Homo sapiens: one gene and its partners. The protein of the gene in region 2 purifies or fractionates together with the protein of the main gene of each other region. This does not show direct contact. Each region holds a gene or a part of one and is shown on either strand. Other genes may lie near its edges.

What was found.
Region 1: the proteins of PADI6 (region 2) and KLHL28 purify together in Homo sapiens (affinity purification with mass spectrometry; one large-scale study listed by BioGRID and IntAct). This does not show direct contact.
Region 3: the proteins of PADI6 (region 2) and NLRP7 purify together in Homo sapiens (co-immunoprecipitation; one study listed by IntAct). This does not show direct contact.
Region 4: the proteins of PADI6 (region 2) and CAMKK1 purify together in Homo sapiens (affinity purification with mass spectrometry; one large-scale study listed by BioGRID and IntAct). This does not show direct contact.

Annotation. Positions count from the first base shown.
Region 1 is NC_000014.9:44,930,241-44,935,453, reverse strand, and holds part of KLHL28 (kelch-like protein 28), read left to right. Parts: intron 1-895; coding exon 896-1,339; intron 1,340-3,912; coding exon 3,913-4,121; intron 4,122-5,213.
Region 2 is NC_000001.11:17,369,725-17,375,677, forward strand, and holds the start of PADI6 (inactive protein-arginine deiminase type-6), read left to right. Parts: upstream 1-2,471; 5' UTR 2,472-2,521; coding exon 2,522-2,637; intron 2,638-3,331; coding exon 3,332-3,509; intron 3,510-5,702; coding exon 5,703-5,775; intron 5,776-5,953. UniProt on the Homo sapiens protein: Structural constituent of cytoplasmic lattices, which plays a key role in early embryonic development. Cytoplasmic lattices consist in fibrous structures found in the cytoplasm of oocytes and preimplantation embryos.
Region 3 is NC_000019.10:54,944,122-54,950,075, forward strand, and holds the start of NLRP7 (NACHT, LRR and PYD domains-containing protein 7), read right to left. Parts: upstream 3,410-5,954; 5' UTR 3,348-3,409; intron 1-3,347. UniProt on the Homo sapiens protein: Inhibits CASP1/caspase-1-dependent IL1B secretion.
Region 4 is NC_000017.11:3,867,441-3,872,653, forward strand, and holds part of CAMKK1 (calcium/calmodulin-dependent protein kinase kinase 1), read right to left. Parts: intron 5,188-5,213; coding exon 5,114-5,187; intron 2,449-5,113; coding exon 2,361-2,448; intron 2,176-2,360; coding exon 2,047-2,175; intron 1-2,046. UniProt on the Homo sapiens protein: Calcium/calmodulin-dependent protein kinase that belongs to a proposed calcium-triggered signaling cascade involved in a number of cellular processes. Phosphorylates CAMK1, CAMK1D, CAMK1G and CAMK4. Involved in regulating cell apoptosis.

The DNA of each region.
Region 1 (5,213 bases), on a different chromosome or scaffold from region 2:
TAATTTTAAGTATTAAAGTGTTACACACATGCAGAAAAATGTACAAATCCCAAATGTACAGCTCAGTGAATTACCACAAAGTAAACATTACAAACCAGTTCAAGAAACAGAGTATGACCAACACTCAAAAGCCACCCTTGAGCTCCCTTCTTGTCCTCCCCAAAAGTGACCACTATCTTCATTCCTAATCCAGAGATTCGTTTTACCTGTTTTTGAACTTAATTGATATCCTTTTGAATTTGACTTTTTTATCTCAACATTATGTGTGTAAGATTCCCCCAGCGACATGTAGCTATAGTTTGTTCCTTTCATTGCCATGTAGTATTCTTTTATATGATATGGCACAATTTATCCATTTTATAGTGGATAAACATTTGGATTGTTTCCACTTTGGAGCTGTTACAAATAATACTGTAGTAAACACTCTTGGACATATATGTATGCATGCCTTTTTCATCAGTAGAGTTGCTCAGACAGGACACATAAAGTACACTTTAACCATTCTTTTGGTGGATGATTGTGTTGTGCTTCTGTGAACATTTGTGTATATTTATCTAGATGCAAAATTATAATAGACATTCAGAAGAGTAGATATATAGGAATGTAATTACTGAGTCAGGACACATGTATCTTCAACTTTTTTAGATAATGTAAAATTGTTTTCCAGAGTAATTTATACAAGTTTACACTCTCACCAACGGAGTATGCATTTCTTGCTACACATTCTTGCCAACAATTATTATCTGACTTTATATTTTTTGCCACTTTGGAAGGTGTGTCATGGTTTATTGTGCTTTTAATTTTTGTGTCCCTGATTACTAATAAGATTAAACATATCTGTCTTTATGGGCCACTTTGGTTTTTAAATTTTATATTTTTTCTGCTTATTCTTTAGTGTGGAGATGTACTTTCCTCAGAATGACTCTTGGATTGGTTTGGCACCCCTAAACATTCCTCGCTATGAATTTGGAATATGCGTTTTAGACCAAAAAGTATATGTTATAGGTGGTATTGCAACTAATGTGCGTCCTGGCGTCACTATCAGAAAACATGAAAATTCAGTGGAATGCTGGAATCCTGATACAAATACTTGGACTTCTCTAGAGAGAATGAATGAAAGCCGAAGTACTCTTGGAGTAGTAGTACTTGCAGGAGAACTTTATGCCTTAGGTGGTTATGATGGACAATCTTATTTACAATCTGTAGAGAAGTACATTCCCAAAATAAGAAAATGGCAACCTGTGGCACCAATGACGACAACAAGAAGTTGTTTTGCTGCAGCGGTATTGGATGGAATGATATATGCCATTGGTGGGTATGGTCCTGCCCACATGAACAGGTATTTAACTTAATAATTAAATTGCATATGTTTATGGATTTTTAAAAGTCTCATTAGCAATGATTTCTGAGTTTTAAACAATTTGTGTGTATGAATGAACTTCCGGCATTTGGGAAACTTAATCTGCTCCATGGATATAATTGTAATTGTTTTACATGGGAATTTAATACAAACCTAACAATCAAATCCCTCTCATTAAATTTTACATTCATTCACTATAAATGGACTAGATTTTAAAACTCAGAAACCTAAAAATAAGATGAAGTTAGACAACTTTAGATTTTGTGTGGTGTGTACATCTATGTGCACAGTATGTAAATTATCTTTTATTGTATTGCTTAATAGAATAAAGAAGTAGAAATTTAATTCCTGTGTGTCTATACAATATTATAGCACATCATAAACTTAAAACCTTATTTAAATATTCCTTTCTGAATTCTTTCCTGTAATCATACATGTATCATCAGGTATTTGACTTGTGCTGGAGTTTGAATTTGTGATATCTGTATTCTGTAGTTTTATCTGAATAAAGGAGAAATATATATGAGAAAATAAAAGTATGAAGTAACTAGTTATATGAGAAATTAATCGTAATTCTGAACCTTTATTGAAAATTGATGTTCCAAAGGTTTTATCTTTGGCCAGGTGTGGTGGTTCACGCCTGTAATCCTAATACTTTGGGAGGCTGACGTGGGAGGATTGCTTGAGCCCAGGAGGTTGAGGCTGCAGTGAGCCTTGAATGCACTACTACACTCCAGCCTGAGCAACAGAGTGAGACCCTGTCTCAAAAAAAAAAAAAAAGAAAGAAAGAAAAGAAAAGATTGTATCTTTAATAGTAATTAGAGTGGTTTGTGTTATTTTGATTGTGAGTATTTTAATGACAGGGCATACAGTCAGCCCTCCATATCCACGGGTTCTACATCCACAGATCCATCCAACTGTGGATCAAAAATATTTGAAAAAATTTACAATAATAAAAAACAAAATAATACAGTATAACAGCTATTTGCATAGTATTATAAGTAATCTAGAGATGATTTAAAGTATACAAGAGGATACGTGTAGCTTATATGCAAATATTATACTGTTTTATATAAGGAACTTGAGCATCTGCAAATTTTGGTATCCTTGGGATGGGGTGGATCCTGGAACCAATCCTCTACAAATACTGAGGTTTGTTGACTGAGAAAGTGATGGCACAACAGCATTTCATCTGTAAATTTTTACTTCTATTGAAGCCAAAGTATTCCTCCTTTTATTTATTTATATTTTTTGCCCTTAGTTGAAGGAAAAATATGGGACATAGACATGCATTTCTATTCTTTGAAAAGCTTCTGCCCAAAATTTGTAAGATAAAAGGTTAAGTATTTTAAATTTGATTATCTTGAAAGTCTTGCTGCAGTGCATCAACTCTTCTTCAATGATTTTGGTCTAATGGATTCTATCCTGGAGTTCTTTCAGAAACATTACCCAGTCTCTATTATGAACTCCAGAATGGTGTCACAGCCTGTTAAATGCTTATGGTTTTTTCAGGAAATAGGTTAGGGCCAGAACAAGCCCAACAATCTTACCTCTGTGCCTTTGTGCACCTTCAGAGGAAACCATAGTCTTAAACAGCTGCTAGAATTTTCTAGGGAAGCCTTTTTGAAAATTCTGATTTAATTTGGATTCCATAATGCAGCTTAGAAATGCCACACGTTCTCTGAAACACAGTCTTGACTCAAATTCCTGAGTACTCCTAAATCACCCTGAGATAATTATGATCAGCCAGTTTGTACTATGCAATCTACAGTGATTGCTTTGCAGTAAGCCACATGAATTCTCCTGTGACGAAAAAAAATAAAGGTTTTTCTCCCCACCCCCCACCCCTCTCTTCCTCTTCTTTTCCCCTTAACTGTATAGAAGATCCTAAAAACCTCTGTATTCAAGCCAGGCATGGGGGCATGTACCTTTAGTCCTAGCTACTCAGGAGGCTGAGGCAGAAAGATCACTTTAGCCCCGGAATTTGAGGCTGCAGTGAGCTCTGATCTTGTCACTGCACTCCAGCCTAGGTGACAGAGCGAGACCTGCCTCAAAAATAAATAAATAAAATTTAGGAACAAAAAAAAAAAGTCTGTATTCAGTTAGTGGTTTTCAAAGTCACGTGCATACTCATTTGACTTTATTCTTATATGAATCCCTTCAGGTTGCACTATCCTCATTTTTGCAGGTGAGAGGAAATGACTTATTCAGGATTACACAAATCCACAGCAGTAGGGTTAAGGTTCGTTCAGCCCTAGGTATACAGAATTAGTACTTGAACCCAGGTCTTCTGACTCCAAGTTCTATGCTCTTAATATACTTTGCCGCTTGCACAATATAATGGAATAGCATATGGAATTGCACCTTGTTTACAAGGTAAGCTTTTATCTTTGCAATCTTATCAGCAAAACCTAAGCATTTGTGGCAGACTACTCTTGTTTAATATCTCTCTATTATGTGAACTTTTAAAGCTGTAGTGGGTTTTAGTTTTGCTTTGACAGGAAGAATGACACAAAAGATCTGTAAATTAAATTTTTTTTAAATATTTGCAGTGTGGAGCGTTATGATCCAAGTAAGGACTCCTGGGAGATGGTTGCATCCATGGCAGATAAAAGGATTCACTTTGGCGTGGGTGTCATGCTAGGCTTTATTTTTGTGGTGGGTGGACATAATGGAGTCTCACATTTGTCCAGCATTGAAAGATACGATCCTCATCAAAATCAGTGGACTGTGTGTAGACCAATGAAAGAACCTAGAACAGGTAATAAGAATTTATTAATTTCTAAACATGTAAGGCAATGTTTTCTATAATGATGTGCTTGCAATAATAGTTCCTTGGAATATAGCAGTAGGAATATTACTTGTCCAGAAAAAAAAAAAAAAAGACTTGTATGTGGTAAACTTGAAAGACAATTAGCTAGACAAAAGTATATAGATTTCTTTATTGTGACTTTTATATGCCAATGTGCATATTATTGTTTCTCAAACTTGCTGAATACATTTTGGGAAATGCTTATACTAGAGTGTGTATTTATAGAAGCTCCTTTTGTCCATGTAACAAATGTCATCTTTTCATATGTTACATACATACAATCCTCGGATTGTTCTGTTTTGTTTTCTATTGTATATCAGTAATCTGTATGTTCACTTTCAAATGTTCTTTCTTCCCCAGGGGGTATAGTTGATCAAAAAGGGTTGTATTTCAGAGTTCGTAGAAACAAAACAAATCCACTTTTGTGGTTTAGGAAAAATTGTTATCTTTGAACTCAAACTCATCACATCATTTTAAGGGAAAGGTTTTAAGATACTGACAGAAATGCTTTAGGGAGCACTCCTCATACAGATTGAATATTTCCTATCCAAAATGCTTAGGACCAGAAGTGTTTCAGGTTTTGGATTTGGGATTTTGGAATATTTGAATTATGCTTACCAGGTTGATCATGCCAAGTTCAAAAATCTAAAGTGTGAAATGCTTAAGTGAACACTTTCTTTGAGCATCATATGGTGCTCAAAAAGTTTCAGATGTTGGGCCAGGCACGGTGTGGCTCACACCTGTAATCCTAGCACTTTGGGAGGCCGAAGTGGGAGGATCACTTGAGGTCAGGAGTTCAAGACCAGCCTGGGCAACATGTTGAAACCCCATCTCTACTAAAAATGAAAAATTAGCCTGGTGCGGTGGCACATGCCTGTAGTGTCAGCTACTCGGGAGGCTGAGGCATGAGAATCGCTAGAACCGAGATCGCGCCACTGCACTCTAGCCTGGGAGACAGAGCAAGACTCCATCTCAAAAAAAAAAGTTTCAAATGTTGGAGCACTTTGGATTTCATATTTTTTGGGTATTGGATGTTCAACC
Region 2 (5,953 bases):
GGGGAACGTCAGAGCTTCCAGGCTGCCTTCCTCCAGACCCCAGAGCCTGGACTGGGCCTCAGCGACCCCTCCCCAGTCAACCCGTCTTCTCCCTCCAGCTGCCTCTGGCCGCTTGTGCGTGAGGGTGGGTGAGCCCTTTGGGATGAGTCTCATCAGAGCCTCTGCACGCTGAGTGCTTCCTGCCTGCTTAATTTTGCCACTTTCAATCCAACCAGAGGGGCATTTTGGGTCTTGCTGACCAACCCCCTGCCTCCAAGAGCAACTAAAACAGAGACATCCTTGAGAGTTGTGTTGAGTGCTTAAAACCTCCAGGGAGGGAATTTTTTACTGCAACTTGCAAATTTAGCCAGCCTGGCTGACCGAACAGGCTTCACTCAGTACCTCATCTCCACCTCCTATGCTGGGTACACCTGGGTGCATATTAGAGCAAAGGCTGAAAACAAATGTTTATATTACAGTACAACCCTATGTAAAATACACAGCTGTACAAAGGGGTAAGGCTGCTTTTTACGTACTGATACAAAGAACTTCTCTCCAGTATAACTATGAAGTGAAAGAGGCAAGGTATGGAATACTGGGTGGCACATACTACCGTTTATATAAGAAGACAGTAGTAGGAGGAGAGAAGAAAAGAGCAAAAGCGCCCCGGACATAGTAGGTGTTCAGCAATTCTAGTGGAGCAAATGACTAAATGACCTCCTTGTCCTTCCTCAAAAAAGATAACCCAATGGGCTTCCAGGGGCATCTCCACTGAACTGAAAAGTTTGTAATTGTAACCAAGCAGCTTAACTTTGAGCACATTTTACAACTTTTCTCTTTAGTCTCGAGATGTAACCTCGAAGGAACCTGCAGAAGCCTTTTTCCCTTAACCTTAAAATAGACTCCACGTCCTTCCCTTTCTCACCATAAAGCCCCTTCAAATTTATCTAACTGTATGCTAGTATTGGAGGAGGAAGAGAAGAAGAAAAGGATACACACACATATTTACTTGGTCATGCATAACATTTATTTGGAAAGACATATAAGAAACGGGTAACACTGTCACTACCTCCACCTGCAGGTGGGTAAGGCACAGGGCAGGAGGGAGACTCTGAACTTGGAATCATGTGACTGTGGTACCTATTCAGGAGTAAGCATGACCCAGCCTGGGCAACATAACAAGACCCCATCTCTGCGGAAAAATGTAAAACCATTAGCTGGGCATGGTGGTGCACATCTGTAGTCCCAGCTGCTCAGGAGGCTGAGGTGGGAAGACCACTTGAGCCTGGGAGGTCAAGGCTGTGAACCATGATCACGCCACTTCACTCCAGCCTGGGTAACGGAGTGAGACCCTGTCTCAAAAACAACAACAAAAAAAAACTCAACCCAAGCTTAAGACATGAAATGAACACAATTTTAAAGTCAGTTATGTAAGTTCCTTGTGCCAGAGAAGGGTTCCTATTTCTTTGCTCTGTGGGCTCCGCTGAGATGAGTAGCAGCTGATGACCCTGGCTTGATGTATTCATTCCACTAACACTTGCTGTGCCCCCACCCCCACCGACACAGCTGTAAGCAAAGAGCTCACCTTAATCACTGGGGGTTGGGATGCAGGTTCCTGGACCACACCCTAGACCTTCTGGGCCCAGGAATTTGCAATGTTAACAAGCACCCTTGATAATTTTTGAAACCACCAGAGGGTTAATAACCACCTAGTCTAGGCAGGCGCTGTGGCTCACGCCTGTAATCCCAGCACTTTGGCAGGTCGAGATAGGAGGATTTCTGGGATCAAGAAGTTCGAGACTAGCCTGGGCAACATGGCAAAACCCGGTCTCTACAAAAAATACAAAAATCAGCTGGACATGGTGGTGCACACCTGTAGTCCCAGCTACTTGGGAGGCTGAGATGGATCACTGGAGCCAGGTAGGTTGAGGCTGCAGTGAGCTATGATTGCGCCACTGCACTCTAGCATGGGTAGAGACCCTGTCTCAAAAACAAAACCAAACCACCAGTCCAGCACTTTGCCGAGCTCCTTCGTCAATTTCCAGGAGACACACACCCTAGAACTGAGACCCCAGAGCCTGGGCATGCTGCCACACATTGCCATCCTGACTGCTACCATCAACTCCTCCCAACTGCCCTCTGCAGGTATTTGCCCCGACAGCTTCCAGCTGAGTCCTCCAGCAACATGGCCAAGTTGATCACTCCAAGGCACCGACTTCCCAGAGCCCCTCCTCTTCCCAGCTGAAGGCCACAGATGCCTAAGCAACCGGCCTCAGACTCCCCTGGCCTGCAGCTCTGCAGGCACGAGGTGCCTGATAAATTGGTGATGAAGGGGTTCTGATGCCACCTGCTCCCCAGACTATCAGCCACCAGGAAGCTCTTAGAGGGAAAATCAGTGACACCTGGGCAGCTGCTGACCCCTCCCCTTCTTAACAAGGGGGTGGCCTGCACAGGCCTGGACTGTATAACAGGGAAGGGCAGGGTGAGCCCTGGGGCGTCTGAGGCTGCTGTGCTGAGTGAGGGCTGCGGTGCAGGCCTGAGGATGGTCAGCGTGGAGGGCCGAGCCATGTCCTTCCAGAGTATCATCCACCTGTCCCTGGACAGCCCTGTCCATGCCGTTTGTGTGTTGGGCACAGAAATCTGCTTGGATCTCAGCGGGTGAGATGCTGGGAGCTCTGCCAGAGGTGGCAGGCAGACAGGCAGGCAGGCCTGGGACCCAGTCCCCTTGATCTGGGAGTTGGGGGTTACTTCTCTAGCCTCACTATCCTGCCCCATCTTGGGAAGCCTTGGGTCTCTAGTGGGGGGCCTCCCAGTTCCAACCACGCAGAATTCTGACTTAAATCCTGCCTCTGCCCTGTAGCAGCTGCCATGGACTCTTAGTGAGGCAAGGGCCTTGGCCTCTCTGTTCCCCTATCTGTGAAACCATGGGGACGCTGGCCTCGGGGGGCTGTGAGGAGCAGGCCAGGGAGACTGCTAGATGCTGGAGCCTGCAGGTGGAGGTGACTCAGCAGGGTCACAGTACAACTTCCTGAGTCGCTTGCCCTGATCTTTTTCTTTATGGGGATCCTTTGTGGCTCCCCCCTTCTTGGGAATTGGGTGCTTATTACTAAGATGTAGCTGTGGTAACTTCTGCAGTGTCGGTAGCGGGATGGGGTTTGGGCTGGAGCCCGTCGGAGAGCAAACACAGGGGTCCTTTGGGAGGGGGTGGGTAGGAATAAGGACCCCAGACCACTCTGCCTCAACACCCTAAGGAGAATGAGGATTCGGGAGCCGTCCCCTCCCCCATGCCAGTCATCTCCTAGGCTGAGAAGGTGTTTGTGCCCTGACGCGTGTCTCTTACCGGGCAAACCAGGTGTGCCCCCCAGAAGTGCCAGTGCTTCACCATCCATGGCTCTGGGAGGGTCTTGATCGATGTGGCCAACACGGTGATTTCTGAGAAGGAGGACGCCACCATCTGGTGGCCCCTGTCTGATCCCACGTACGCCACAGTGAAGATGACATCGCCCAGCCCTTCCGTGGATGCGGATAAGGTAAGCCTCAGGGGAAGAGGTGAGGGGCATCTCCCGGGGTGGGACCTAGCACAGCCACTGGGGCTTCCTCCTGGCTGCAGACGTGACTCGAGCCTGGGAAACACGTTGTTTTGCACGTCTGATCTCATCCAGTGTCTGCAACAGACCAGTGGTGTGGGCACTCCATGACCCCATTTTACAAAGAAACAGAGGCACCTAGCGAAGGTGCCCTGCCAAGTCAGCAACCAGCAGGACTGGGATTTATTTTTTATTTTCATTTATTTATTATTATTTTTTTTTTTGAGTCTCACGCTCATTGCCCAGACTGGGGTGCAATGGCACAATCTCAGCTCACTGCAACCTCCACTTCCCGGGTTCAAGCAATTCTCCTGCCTCAGCTTCCCGAGTAGCTGGGACTACAGGCACCCACCACCATGCCCGGCTAATTTTGTATTTTTAGTATGAGACAGGGTTTCACTATGTTGGCCAGGCTGGTCTCAAACTCCTGACTTCAAGTGATCTACCTGCCTCCACCTCCCAAAGTGCTGGGATTACAGGCATGAGCCACCACACCTGGCCTACCATCACTTTACATATGAGGAAACTAAGGCACAGAGTGCTGTGTCTAAACCTAAGTAGCCTACCTAGAGTGGGATAGACCCAGGATTTGAGCTTGAGCCCAAGGGTGTATTCTCCCCTGGGTAAGCTGTCTCCCTAATGGGGTGCCTATGTTGGGGAGGTTCTCCTGTGGTAGAAGCAGGTGGCTCATTCAGGGCAGGAGTGTTCAACCTTGGTTGCAGGTGAGAACCACTGGGGAGCTAATAACATCAATACCCAGGCCACACCCCCTCTACCAATTAAACCTGAGGTACCAATGGAACCTCAGGGCTAGGATCCTGGCCGCTGGTTTAAAGCTCTCCAGGTGCACCCAGTGCGGGGCTGGGGGTGAGAACCATGATGGAGCAGTTCAGGACTGGGAGAGCTCTCCCTCCCTCCCCCCACACCCTACAGGACCTACTGGAGATGTCTGCTGCAGAGGGGTAGGTACACACACCCACCTGCGCTGTGTGCCCAGGGCAGGCAACTCCCTGAGAGGCAAGTAGTGGACTTAGGTAGGAACTGAGTGTCTCTGGCCAGGTGTGGTGGCTCATGCCTGTAATCCCAGCACTTTGGAAGGCTGAGATGGGCAGATCACCTGAGGTCGGGAGTTTGAGACCAGCCTGGCCAACATGGTGAAACGCTGTCTCTACTAAAAATACAAAAATTAGCCAGGTGTGGTGGCAGGTGCCTGTAATCTCAGGTTCTCAGGAGGCTGAGGCTGGAGAATCGCTTGAACCCAGGAGGTGGAGGTTGTAGTAAGCTGAGATTGTCCCACTGCATTACAGCCTGGGCAACAAGAACAAAACTCCATCGCAAAAAAAGGTATCTCAGATAAGAATGGAGGCCACGGTGGGTGCCAGTGGAACTCCAGACTACCTGAGAACCATTCTCTGCCCAGGGCTCGGCCTCCAGGACCCTCAGGAGTGGCCAACAAAGAACCTTGAACTTAGAGGACTAAAGCTTCTATTTAAGGATGGGGTGGATCTGTCACATGCTCTGGCCAATGGTTGGGTCTCTGGTTCATGACCAAGACCTTGTGGTCAGGGTCAGTGGCTGGAGGGCAGGTCTCTTTCTAAAAGCATAAAGTAGAGGCTGGTGTGGGACACAGTCCCACAGTTGGGACTGAGTCCCAACGCTGCTTCTTCACCTGGGTGTCCTTCTTAGTGAGCAGCTTAAGCCACCAGAGGCCTGTTTCCCCACCGTGCACCTTATGGAGTAGGACATGGGACCCCAGGAGAGTGGGTTTAGCAGGGAGGATGTATAGTGTGGTTTCAAGCTTGGGCTCTAGAGCCAGGCAGCCTGTTTCTTAAATCCCTTTGGGATAAGTCCCTTGATCACCCCGCCATCAGGGATACAGCTCTCACGTGGACAGGTGGTTTCAAGCCTGGCTCTCGACAAGGTTAGGGTTGGGGGTCATGGCAGGTTCTAAGTCCTTAGGGGACTGACTCAGCCCTAAGCGCAGGGCTGTGGCCCCATACCAGCTCATAGGTGAGACTTCAGAAGCCATAACACAAGACCAAGATCCCACGCCTAGACTCGGCACATGGCCTGGGGCTCTGTTCCTGGCACCTCCCGTCCAACACTGCCTATGGTTTCGGGATGCTGTCTCCACAGGTCTCGGTCACATACTATGGGCCCAACGAGGATGCCCCCGTGGGCACAGCTGTGCTGTACCTCACTGGCATTGGTGAGTGTTGCTCCAACTGGGAGCCTGGGGCCCAACTCACCGCTGGGGTTGGGGAAGGGGTGGGATTGTAGGAGGAGCCAAAAAAGATTCTCCAGGTAACAAGATGCCTCCTGTGGGCCCCAGGAACTCCTGAACAAACTCCTAAATGGATTCATTTGAGATACCCACTCACACACTC
Region 3 (5,954 bases), on a different chromosome or scaffold from region 2:
GACCGTACCCCAGCCCGACACCCGTAAAGGGTCTGTGCTGAAGAGGATTAGTATAAGAGGAAGGCCTTTTTGCAGTTAAGAGGAAGGTATCTGTCTCCTGCTCGTCCCTGGGCAATGGAATGTCTCGGTGTAAAACCCGATGGTATGTTCCATCCACCGAGATAGGGGAAAACCGCCTTAGGGCTGGAGGTGACACATGCTGGCAGCAATACTGCTCTTTAATGCACCAGATATGTTTATGTATGAGCACATCAAGGCACAGCACATTTCCTAACCTTGTTTATGACACAGACATTTGCTCACATGTTTTCCTGCTGACCCTCTCCCCACTGTTACCCTATTGTCCTGCCACATCCCCGTCTCCGAGATGGTAGAGATAATGACCAATAAATACTGAAGGAACTCAGAGACCCGGCCGGCGCGGGTCTCCTGAGCCCACTTTTCTTTCTGTGTACTTTGTCTCTGTGTCTCTTTCTTTTCTCAGTCTCTCGTCCCACCTGACAAGAAACACCCACAGGTGTGGAGGGGCAGGCCACCCCTTCAGTGAGGTATAATTACATATATCCTATTTTAGGATGGAGCAGGAAGAGCATGAGAGCCCAGGAGTTCCAGACCAGCCTGGGCGACACAAGGAGACCTTGTCTCTATTTTTTAAGTATTTTTAAAGTAATATATACAACGTTTACTTGTCAAAGTGTACAGCATGGAGCGATGTTATATATACAGTGAAATGATTACCACAATCCAGCTAATTAACATATCCACTGCTTCATATAGTTGCCTTTCGTTTTTGCAGTGACAACGCTTGATGTACTTAGAAAAATTCAGGGTTTTTTGGCCAGGCACGGTGGCTCACGCCTGTAATCCCAGCACTATGGGAGGCCGAGGCGGGCAGATCACAAGGTGAGGAGCTCAAGACCATCCTGGCTAACACGGTGAAACCCCGTCTCTACTAAAAATACAAAAAAAAAATTAGCCGGGCATGGTGGCGGGCGCCTGTAGTCCCAGCTACTTGGGAGGCTGAGGCAGGAGAATGGCTTGAACCTGGGAGGCGGAGCTTGCAGTGAGCCAAGATCGCGCCACTGCACTCCAGCCTGGGCGAGTGAGACTCCCTCTCAAAAAAAAAAAAAAAAAGAAAAGAAAAGAAAAATTCAGGGTTTTTTTTTTCTTTTTCAGAAAGTCTTGCTCTGTCGCCCAGGCTGGAGTGCAATGGTGCGAGGCTTACCACAACCTCCTCTTCCCGGGTTCAAGCGATTCTCCTGCCTCGGCCTCCCAAGTAGCTGGGATTACAGGTATGCCCCACCACACCTAATTTTTTTTGTATTTTTAGTACAAACGGGGTTTCACCATGTTGGCCAGGCTGGTCTTGAACTCCTGACCTCAGGTGATCTGCCCACCTCAGCCTCCCAAAGTGCTGGGATTACAGGTATGAGCCACCAGGCCTGGCCAAGTATTTTTTTTCCCAAGTACATTTTTTTCTTTTTTTCTTTTTTTTGAGATGGAGTCTCCCTCTGTTGCCCAGGCTGGAGTGCAGTGGCACAATCTCGACTCACTGCAACCTCCACCTCCCAGGTTCAAGTGATTCTAGTGCCTCAGCCTCTCAAGAAGCTGGGATTACAGGCGCACCGCATCACGCCGGGCTAGTTTTTGTATTTTTAGTAGAGACAGGGTTTCTTGTTTTTTTCTGAGATGGAGTCTTGCTCTGTCACCCAGGCTGGAGTGCAGTGGCGCGATCTGGGCTCACTGCAAGCTCCGCCTCCCAGGTTCACGCCATTCTCCTGCCTCAGCCTCCCAAGTAGCTGGGACTACAGGCGCCCGCCACTATGCCCAGCTAATTTTTTTTGTATTTTTAGTAGAGATGGGGTTTCACCGTGTTAGCCAGGATGGTCTCGATCTTCTGACCTCGTGATCCGCCCGCCTCGGCCTCCCATAGTGCTGGGATTACAGGCGTGAGCCACCGCGCCCGGCCGAGACAGGGTTTCTCTATGTTGGCCAGGCTGGCCTCGAACTCCTGACCTCAGCTGATCCACCCGCCTCGGCCTCCCAAAGTGCTGGGATCACAGGCGTGAGCCACCGCATCTGGCCATTTACATTTTTTTTTTTTTTTGATGCAGCATTTCACTCTGGTTGCCCAGGCTGGAGTGCAGTGGCGCAATCTCAGCTCACCGCAACCTCCGCCTCCCGGGTTCAAGTGATTCTCCTGCCTCAGCCTCCCGAGTAGCTGGGATTACAGGCATGTGCCACCACGCCCAGCTAATTTTGTATTTTTAGTAGAGATGGGGTTTCTCCATGTTGGTCAGGCTGGTCTCAAACTCCCGGCCTCAGGTGATCTGAAAGTGCTGGGATTACAGGCGTGAGCCACCGCGCCCAGCCTACTTTTTTTTTTTTTTAAACAGGGTCTTCATCTCATCCAGGCTGGAGTGCAGTGGCTCAATCACACCTCATTGCAGCCCCCACCTCCTGGCTCAGGTGATCCTCCCACCTCACCCCACAAGTAGCTTGGACACAGCACAAGGTCTGGCCTTCTTTGTTTTTTGAGACGGAGTCGCACTCTGTCTCCCAGGCTGGAGTGCAGTGGCGCGATCTCAGCTCATTGCAACCTCCCCCTCCTAGGTTTAAGCTATTCTCCTGCCTCAACCTTCCAAGTAACTGGGATTACAGGCATGCACCACCACACCTGGCTAATTTTTGTGTTTTTAGTAGAGACAGGGTTTCACCATTTTGGGCAGGCTGGTCTCAAACTTCTGGCCTCAAGTGATCCACCCGCCTCGGCCTCCCAAAGTGTTGGGATAACAGGCATGAACCACTGTGCCTGGCCTTATATTTTTTTGTAATGACAGAGTTTTACCATGTTGCCCAGGCTAGTCTCAATCTCCTGAACTCCTCTAAACTATATTTGAATAGAAGTCCTTAAGACATTAGGCCAGGCGTGGTGGCTCACACCTGGAATCCCAGCACTTTGGGAGGCCGAGGCAGACAGATTACCTAAAGTCAGGAGTTCAAGACCAGCCTGGCCAACATGGTGAGACCCCGTCTCTACTAAAAATACAAAAATTAGCTGGGCATGGTGGCACGTGCCTGTAGTCCCAGCTACTCAGGAGGCTGAGGCAGGAGAATGGCGGGTGAACCCAGGAGGCGGAGTTTGCAGCGAACCAAGATCACGCCACTGCACTCCAGCCTGGGCGACAGAGGGAGACTCCGTCTCAAAAAAAAAAAAATCAAAGATCCTTCCAGCATCCTCGCACCAACCATTAAGGCTTGGGAAGGGCTATGGTGGAAACTCAACCAATAGCTTCTTCTCCCTTAAACGAGAAGACAAAGAAATCGATGCAAGAACCAGCACTCACCTCCCTCAGGTCAGGTCTTGCTTCCAGCCTGTGTTTCCTGCAAAGGAAACGGATAAAAAGGGGAGGTCTCTGGCCCTTGGTACGCTAGGTGGAGAGACAGCTTTCCCGCCCAGGGTGGAACCGCCCCACTGAGATTAACATTGGGTGGCTCCCAACCACTGACCTCAGGCTCACCTTGACATCACCTGGGCCCCATCCTCAGGGATTTGGCTGTAATTGGGCTTCAGTGGGCTTTGGAGAATTACGGCTTGCTGAATCTCCCCAGGTGAGATTAATGTGCAATTCCCTTCCTAGACCACCCGGGCCAGGTGTGATAGGCGACAGAACAGGAAATACACATTTTGGGTTTTGCAGGGTACCTGGCTCCCAGCTTTAAAAACTCTTGTAGAGAAAAAAAATTAAACAAAAATAAATAAAAATTAAAAAAAAAGAGGACAAAAACTCCCGTGACTTCCTAAGTTACAAATACAATAAGTCTACTTTGTGGCCAACTGTGGTGCCTCCTGCCTATAAATCCCAGCAGGCTGAGAGGCCTAGGCCAGTGGATCCCTAGGGGCCAGGAGTTTGATACCAGCCTAGGCAACATAGCAAGATGCCATCTCTTCAAAAATATTTAATAATTAGCCATGCATAGGCTGGGCGTGGTAGCTCATGCCTGTAGTCCCAGCAATTTGGGAAGCCGAGGCGGGTGGATCACCTGAGGTCAGGAGTTGGAGACCAGACTGGCCAACGTGGTGAAACTCTGTCTCTACTAAACATACAAAAAATTAGCCAGGTGTGGTGGCAGGTGCCTGTAATCCCAGCTACTCGGGAGGCTGAGACAGGACAATCACTTGAACTAGGGAGGTGGAGGGTGAGTGAGGCACGATCACGCCATTGCACTCCAGCCTGGGTGACAAGAGCAAGACTGTCTCAAAAACAAAAACAAAAAAATTAGCCATACATGATGGGCTGCACCTGTAATCCCAGCTATTCAGGAGGCTGAGGTGGGAGGATCACCTGAGCTCAGGAGTTTGAGGCTGCAGTGAGCTGTGACTGGCCATCTCACTCCAGCCTAGGCCACAGAGTGAGACCCAGTCTCAAAAAAATAAATAGATAACTGATATTTAATTTTTTTTTTTGGATGGAGTCTTGCTCTGTGGCCCAGGCTGGAGTGCAGTGGTGCAATCTCCATTCTTGCAACCTCTGCCTTCCAGGTTCAAGCAATTCTGATGCCTCAGCTTCCCAAGTAGCTGGGACTGCAGGCACATGCCACCATGCCCAACTAATTTTTTGTATTTTTAGTAGAGACAGGGTTTCACCATATTGGTCAGGCTGGTCTCAAACTCCTGATGTCAGGTGATTACAGGCATGAGCCACCGCACCTGGCCTAAAATTGTTTTTAAATAAAACAGTGTATGTTGTGGAAAGCATTCAGCACAGAATTTTGGTAGTTTAAACTGTTAATTTAATGGAAGCAAATGGTCCCACAAATGAAGATGTATATATCAGTTGCAGCATGCCATCTATAGAAATAGGCACTATGGAGGCCTGGCATGGTGGCTCACACCTGTAATCCCTGCACTTTGGAAGGCTGAGGCAGGTGGATCATCTGAGGTCAGCAGTTCGAGACCAACCTGGGCAACATGGCAAAAAACCCCTGGCTACTAAAAATAAAGAATTAGCCAGGCATGGTGGTGTGCACCTGTAATCCCAGCTACTCAGGAGGCTGAGGCGTAAGAATTGATTGAACCTGGGAGTTGGAGGTTGCCGTGAGCCGAGATTGCACCACTGCGCTCCAGCCTGGGCGACAGAGACTCCATCTTTAAAAAAAAAAAAAAAAGATGGCCAGGCGCAGTGGTTCATGAATGTAATCCCAGCACTTTGGGAGGCTGAGGCGGGAGGACTGCCTGAGTCCAGGAGTTCAAGACCAGCCTGGGCAATATGGCGAGACTCCCTCTCTGAAGAAAAAGAAAATAAAAACAATAAAAATAAATTATATTCTAGCTGACAAAAAGAGAGAGAGAGTATATTTTGTTAAAACATTTGGCCTTTAGTCCTAGAGCAGCTATGGAGAGATAAACATGAAAGAGGTATCTCTTGTTATACATACCCAGGCCCTGCAACCACACCTGAGTTTATGTAAATGAGGTGACTTTTGGAAAGCCCCTAGATAACCCCACAAGTGCGAGGGACTGGCTGCCAAAGAAACCGTCAGTGATTAGACATTGGGAACTTTCAGCCCCAGGCTCCAAGTGGCCTCCAGGGAGGGGAGAGGGGCTGAAGGTTGAATTGATTATGAACTGCCAGCTATGTGATCAGCATTGCCCACCTAAGGAATCCTCCATAAACCCCAAAAGAAAAGGGTTTGGGCCGGGTGTCCTGTGGCTCATGCCCGTAATCCCAACGCTTTGGGAGGCCTAGATGGGAGGATTGCTTGAGCCCAAGAATTCTAGGCCAGTCTGGACAAAATAGCAAGACCCTGGCTCTACAAAAAATAAAAAATTAGCCAGGCGTGGTGGAGTGCACCTGTAGACCCAGCTACTCAGGAGGCTGAGGCATGAGAATCACTTGAACGCAGGAGACAGAGGCTGCAGTGAGCTGAGATAGCGCCACTGCACTCCAGCC
Region 4 (5,213 bases), on a different chromosome or scaffold from region 2:
GGCTCTGAGCTGGGAGGTGACACACTCATGCCACTGGGACCATGCTGGGTGCTGAGTTGAGCATTGACCAGGGGGACAGGGAGTGAGAGTAGAAGCAAGGGACAGCGTGGGAGGTTGTTCCAGTGGTCTGAGAGAGAGGAGATGGTGGCTAAGATCAGGCAAGTGGTCATGGGGACCCCGTGGGAGTTGCCTGGTTCCAGCGACCCCACAGAGTCAAGTAAGCATAGGGGGCAGGGATTGAGCCAGCTGGTCCCAGCTGGGCCGGGACCCTGCAGAGGGGGATAAAGTGCAAGGCCAGGCCCCGCCAACGGCAGTGGCCCTGGCTCTCCTCCTGGCCTTGTGCTTGCCCTGACTCACTTGACTGTCAGGCAGGGGCAGGGCAGGGCTCTCAGTGGCCCCAGGTGGCCACGGGGGACTATGTGAATCACTTCCAAGTGCCAACACAGAAGCTGAGCAGAGGAAGAGGAGCAAAACCGAAATGTGAGCGGGCACTAGGGGAGACACAGGCACTGTCTAATGGATACGCAGGATCTGGGGGAGATGCAGGCACCGTCTAACTGATACGCGGGCTCTGGGGGAGAAGCAGGCGCCGTCTAACTGATACACAGGATCTGGGGGAGAAGCAGGCGCAGTCTAACTGATACGTGGGCTCTGGGGGAGAAGCAGGCGCCGTCTAACTGATACGTGGGCTCTGGGGGAGAAGCAGGCGCCGTCTAACTGATACGTGGGCTCTGGGGGAGAAGCAGGCGCCGTCTAACTGATACGTGGGCTCTGGGGGAGAAGCAGGCGCCGTCTAACTGATACGTGGGCTCTGGGGGAGAAGCAGGCGCCGTCTAACTGATACGTGGGCACGGGGGAGATGCAGGCACCGTCTAACTGATACACAGGATCTGGGGGAGACGCAGGCACTGCCTGATTGATACGCGGGCGCTGGGGGAGACGCAGGCCCATCTAACTGATATGTGGGCTCTGGGGGAGACACAGGTGCTGCCTAACTGATACGTGGGCTCTGGGGGAGACGCAGGCGCCGCCTAACTGATACGTGGGCTTTGGGGCCACTCCTCCAATCCAAAGGCTGCCCAGGCCGTTCCCCTGCCTTGTCCTCGGCACCTTGTGCAGTGCCTGGAGAACGGAAGCTCAGTAACTGTCTGGACGGAATGAAATGCTTCTTCCAGTCACGGTGACTGCTGCCGCTGAGCAAGGGCCATCTATTTCTTTCTTTTTTTTTTTGAGATGGAGTCTCGTTCTGTCAACCAGGCTGGAGTGCAATGGCGTGATCTTGGCTCACTACAACCTCCACCTCCCAGGTTCAAGCGATTCTCCTGCCTCGGCCTCCCCAGTAGCTGGGACTACAGGTGCCCACCACTGCGCCCGGCTAATTTTTTTGTATTTTTAGTAGAGGTGGGGTTTCGCCGTATTAGCCAGGATGGTCTCGATCTCCTGACCTCGTGATCCACCCGCCTCGGCCTCCCAAAGTGCTGGGATTCCAGGCGTGAGCCACCGCGCCCGGTATTTCTTTCTTTTCTTTTCTTCTTTTTTTTTTTTTGAGACGCAGTCTCGCTCTGTGGCCCAGGCTGGAGTGCAGTGGCGCGATCTCGGCTCACGGCAAACTCCACCTCCCGGGTTCACACCATTCTCCTGCCTCAGCCTCCCGAGTAGCTGGGACTACACGCGCCCGCCACCACGCCCAGCTAATTTTCTATATTTTTAGTAGAGTCGGGGTTTCAAGGATGGTCTCGATCTCCTGACCTCGTGATCTGCCCGCCTTGGCCTCCCAAAGTGCTGGGATTACAGGCGTGAGCCACCGCGCCCGGCCCCACGCCCGCTATTTCTTTAAATCAGTCACTCTCCTCACCAAGCCTCCTGGTCTCCCGACCACAAGACCTCCCTCTCCATGGGCCTCCAGCAGAATGGCGGCTCCAGTGGCCCAGGATCACAGCTGGCTGGCCAGGCAGGCCTCTGTCCCCCCAAGGAGCCAGGCACAGAGCAAGGCTCAGGTCCCCCAGGCCCTCCAGGACAAGGGAGCATCTACCCCGGCTCTCTTACCACCGTGGTCCAGCTGGGGATGAGCCTGACTGAGTTCTTAACCTCCTCCTCTGTCACCTCCACCACGCTGCAGTGCTCCTCCTCCGAAGGAAGGGGCTCCTCCCCGTTCTTGGTCACCCAAGGGTGCAACTGTCGGGGCCGGGAGGGCAGGGAGAGGGGGAGAGGTCAGGCCATTACCAGAATCACCTGGAGGGGTCCAAAGTCCACAGACTCAAACCCAACACACATGCATCCTGGTGTTGATCCCTCCAGAAAGGGAAAGTGACTCCTGTTTTCTGTGTCCCAGCCCAGCCCAAGACCCCCAGTTCCCCGACCTTGATGTCTGGCACCCCAATTCTCGTCTCGGGATTCTTGTCTAACATCTTCAGGATCAGGTCCTTGAGCTCCTCGCTGATTTCTGGCCTGGAGAGGGCGAAGGAAGGAGAGGAGGGTGGGACCGCTGATGAGGACCCCTTCCTGTCCACCTCTCTTCCCGAAACCTTCGTCCCTCGGATGGGAAGACTGAGTTCCGGACAGCAGGCAGGAATTTCACAACAAGGGCTTGGAGAGCCTTTCCTGAGCAGGAGGTCAAGTCTCCCTCCAGGACAGAGGCACAGACAGAGTTCCATGGGTGCTGGACACCCCAATGGGTGGCAAAGATGGTGAGGAGAGTCGCTTTATGGGACACCAGAGGCCTTCAGACCCACTCACCACCTCGTCCTTTTCTACACCCAGAGAAGATCCTCTCTCATTTGACAGAGGAGGAAACTGAGGCCCAGGGAGGTTAGCAGGCTGGCACAGTGCCAGCCAGAAGAGTGCAGGCAGAGATGGGAGACTCAGATGGGAGGGAGCAGCCCCCTCAGCGCCACATCAGCTCCAACTCTCTCTGCCCAAACCCCAGGGTTCTTTTTTTTTTTTGAGATGGAGTCTCGCTCTGTGGCCCAGGCTGGAGTGCAGTGGCGCAATCTCGGCTCACTGCAAGCTCCGCCTCCCAGGTTCATGCCATTCTCCTGCCTCAGCCTCCCGAGTAGCTGGGACTACAGGTGCCCGCCACCGTGCCCGGCTAATTTTTTGTATTTTTAGTAGAGACGGGGTTTCACCGTGTTAGCCAGGATGATCTCGATCTCCTGATCTCATGATCCGCCTGCCTTGGCCTCCCAAAGTGCTGGGATTACAGGCGTGAGCCACCACGCCCGGCCAAACCCCAGGTTTCTTTGCCACCAGTGGTCTTGGGGAGCCCATCCTTCCAAGACTAGGGAGCAGAAAGCCACTCTCAGGACTGTTGACTTCGGTTCCCCCTGTTGTCTTAGATGCTTCATCCCTTTTAAAATTCCTGGGCTGAGGGGAAAGACACCCCTCAGCAGGGGGTATAGCAGGAAGAGAGGCACCAGGGGTACAACTGTGGAGGCAGGGAGGGAAGGCAACCACAGGATGAGGAGGAAATGGACAGAAGCCAGCTGGCTGGTGCTCGGGAAAGGGAGTGAGGCGGCCCCAGACGAGCGGGTGGCAGAACCCGGAGACGTGTGAATGCTAGCGCCAGGGTGTGGCTTTGAGAAGCTTCAGACAAACTTCAGGCAAGAGATGCAGGCAGATTTGTTGTGCTTTATCAGGGCTGTCCCCGCCTGAATGTGTTGGCTGGACTGGAGGGAGGCCAGCAGCAGCGAGACCAGGGGGAAGGTGGCTAGATAAGTCTGGGGAGGGGCCTGAGGCCTGAATGAGGCAAGGGGTATAAGTGGCAACAAGGCCCAGAGACAGGGAAGAGGAGGGCTCAGCAGGGCTTGGGGACCACACAGGAAATAAGCAGAAGAGAGCAGGAGTCGCTGAGTACAAGTCCCGTTTCATTTTCTTTTTTTGTTTGTTGTTTTTTGTTTTTTTTTTTTTGTTTTTTTTTTTTTTTTTTTTTTTTTGAGACAGAGTCTCGCTCTGTCGCCCAGGCTGGAGTGCAGTAGCACGGTCTCAGCTCACTGAAACCTCTGCCTCCCGGGTTCACGCCGTTCTCCTGCCTCAGCCTCTCGAGTAGCTGGGACTACAGGCACCCGCCACCACGCCCGGCTAATTTTTTTTCTATTTTTAGTAGAGATGGGGTTTCACCGTGTTAGCCAGGATGGTCTCGATCTCCTGACCTCGTGATCCGCCCTCCTTGGCCTCCCAAAGTGCTGGAATTACAGGTGTGAGCCGCCGCACCCGGCCTTATTCAGTTTCTTTCTTCTGTTTTTTTTTTTTGAGACAGAGTCTTGCTCTGTCGCCCAGGCTCACTGCAACCTCTGCCTCCTGGGTTCAAGCAATTCTCGTGCTTCAGCCTCCCGAGTAGCTGGGACTACAGATGTGCGCCACCACGCCTGGCTAATTTTTGTATTTTTAGTAGAGATGGGGTTTCACCATGTTGGCCAGGCTGGTCTCTAACTCCTAACCTCAGGTGATCTGCCCACCTCAGCCTCCCAAAGTGCTGGGATTACAGGCGTGAGCCACCGCACCCGGCCTCCATTTCACTCCTGAAATCCACTGCTGAAAAGAGGAGCCTGGGAGCTCAGGCTGTGGCTGCCACGGTGGCCGTCATGAGGCGAACCATGCATGAGCAAGAGGCCTCCCCGACGTCCCTGCTACGCTCAGAGACCTCGGTCACAATGGGAAGAGTGGGGAGGAAGAGTGGCTTGAGTCCCAGCCCCCTGACCGCTCTCCTCCAGAGCATCCTCTTTTCCATCTGTGAAATGGGGAGCACGCACTGGCATCTTGAAGTTCCCTGACCCTGAGTGGGGGAAGGAGAAGTTCCCCTTGAGTCCAGGGGCTGGGTGGGGCTGGCGCCACTGACCCCAGGCAGGCCTGCGGTGAAGGAGTGGTGTGAATGATGCCTGTGGTCATCCCTGGCCAACCCTGGATCTCAGGGTTCCCATCCACACAGTGACGTTGCGGAGACCCTTGGCTCCAGAGTCCCTCCCGTCCATCTATTCAGGGGTCCCTCCCAGGGAACAGCACCGCCACCTTCATATCTGCAGGCTGGGGTGGGGTCCTCAGAGGGCAAAAGCTCTGCTAAAACTCAGACACCAGGAGCGGGTGGTAGCCCCCTTGTTCCCCTGGGTGGACAACTCACTCCTCAGGAAACACCACGGGCTCATTCTTGATCTTCCTGTGGAGGGCCAGGATGAAATCGTCGATGAATGGGCACTGTGGGGTGGAGAGGCAGACAAAGG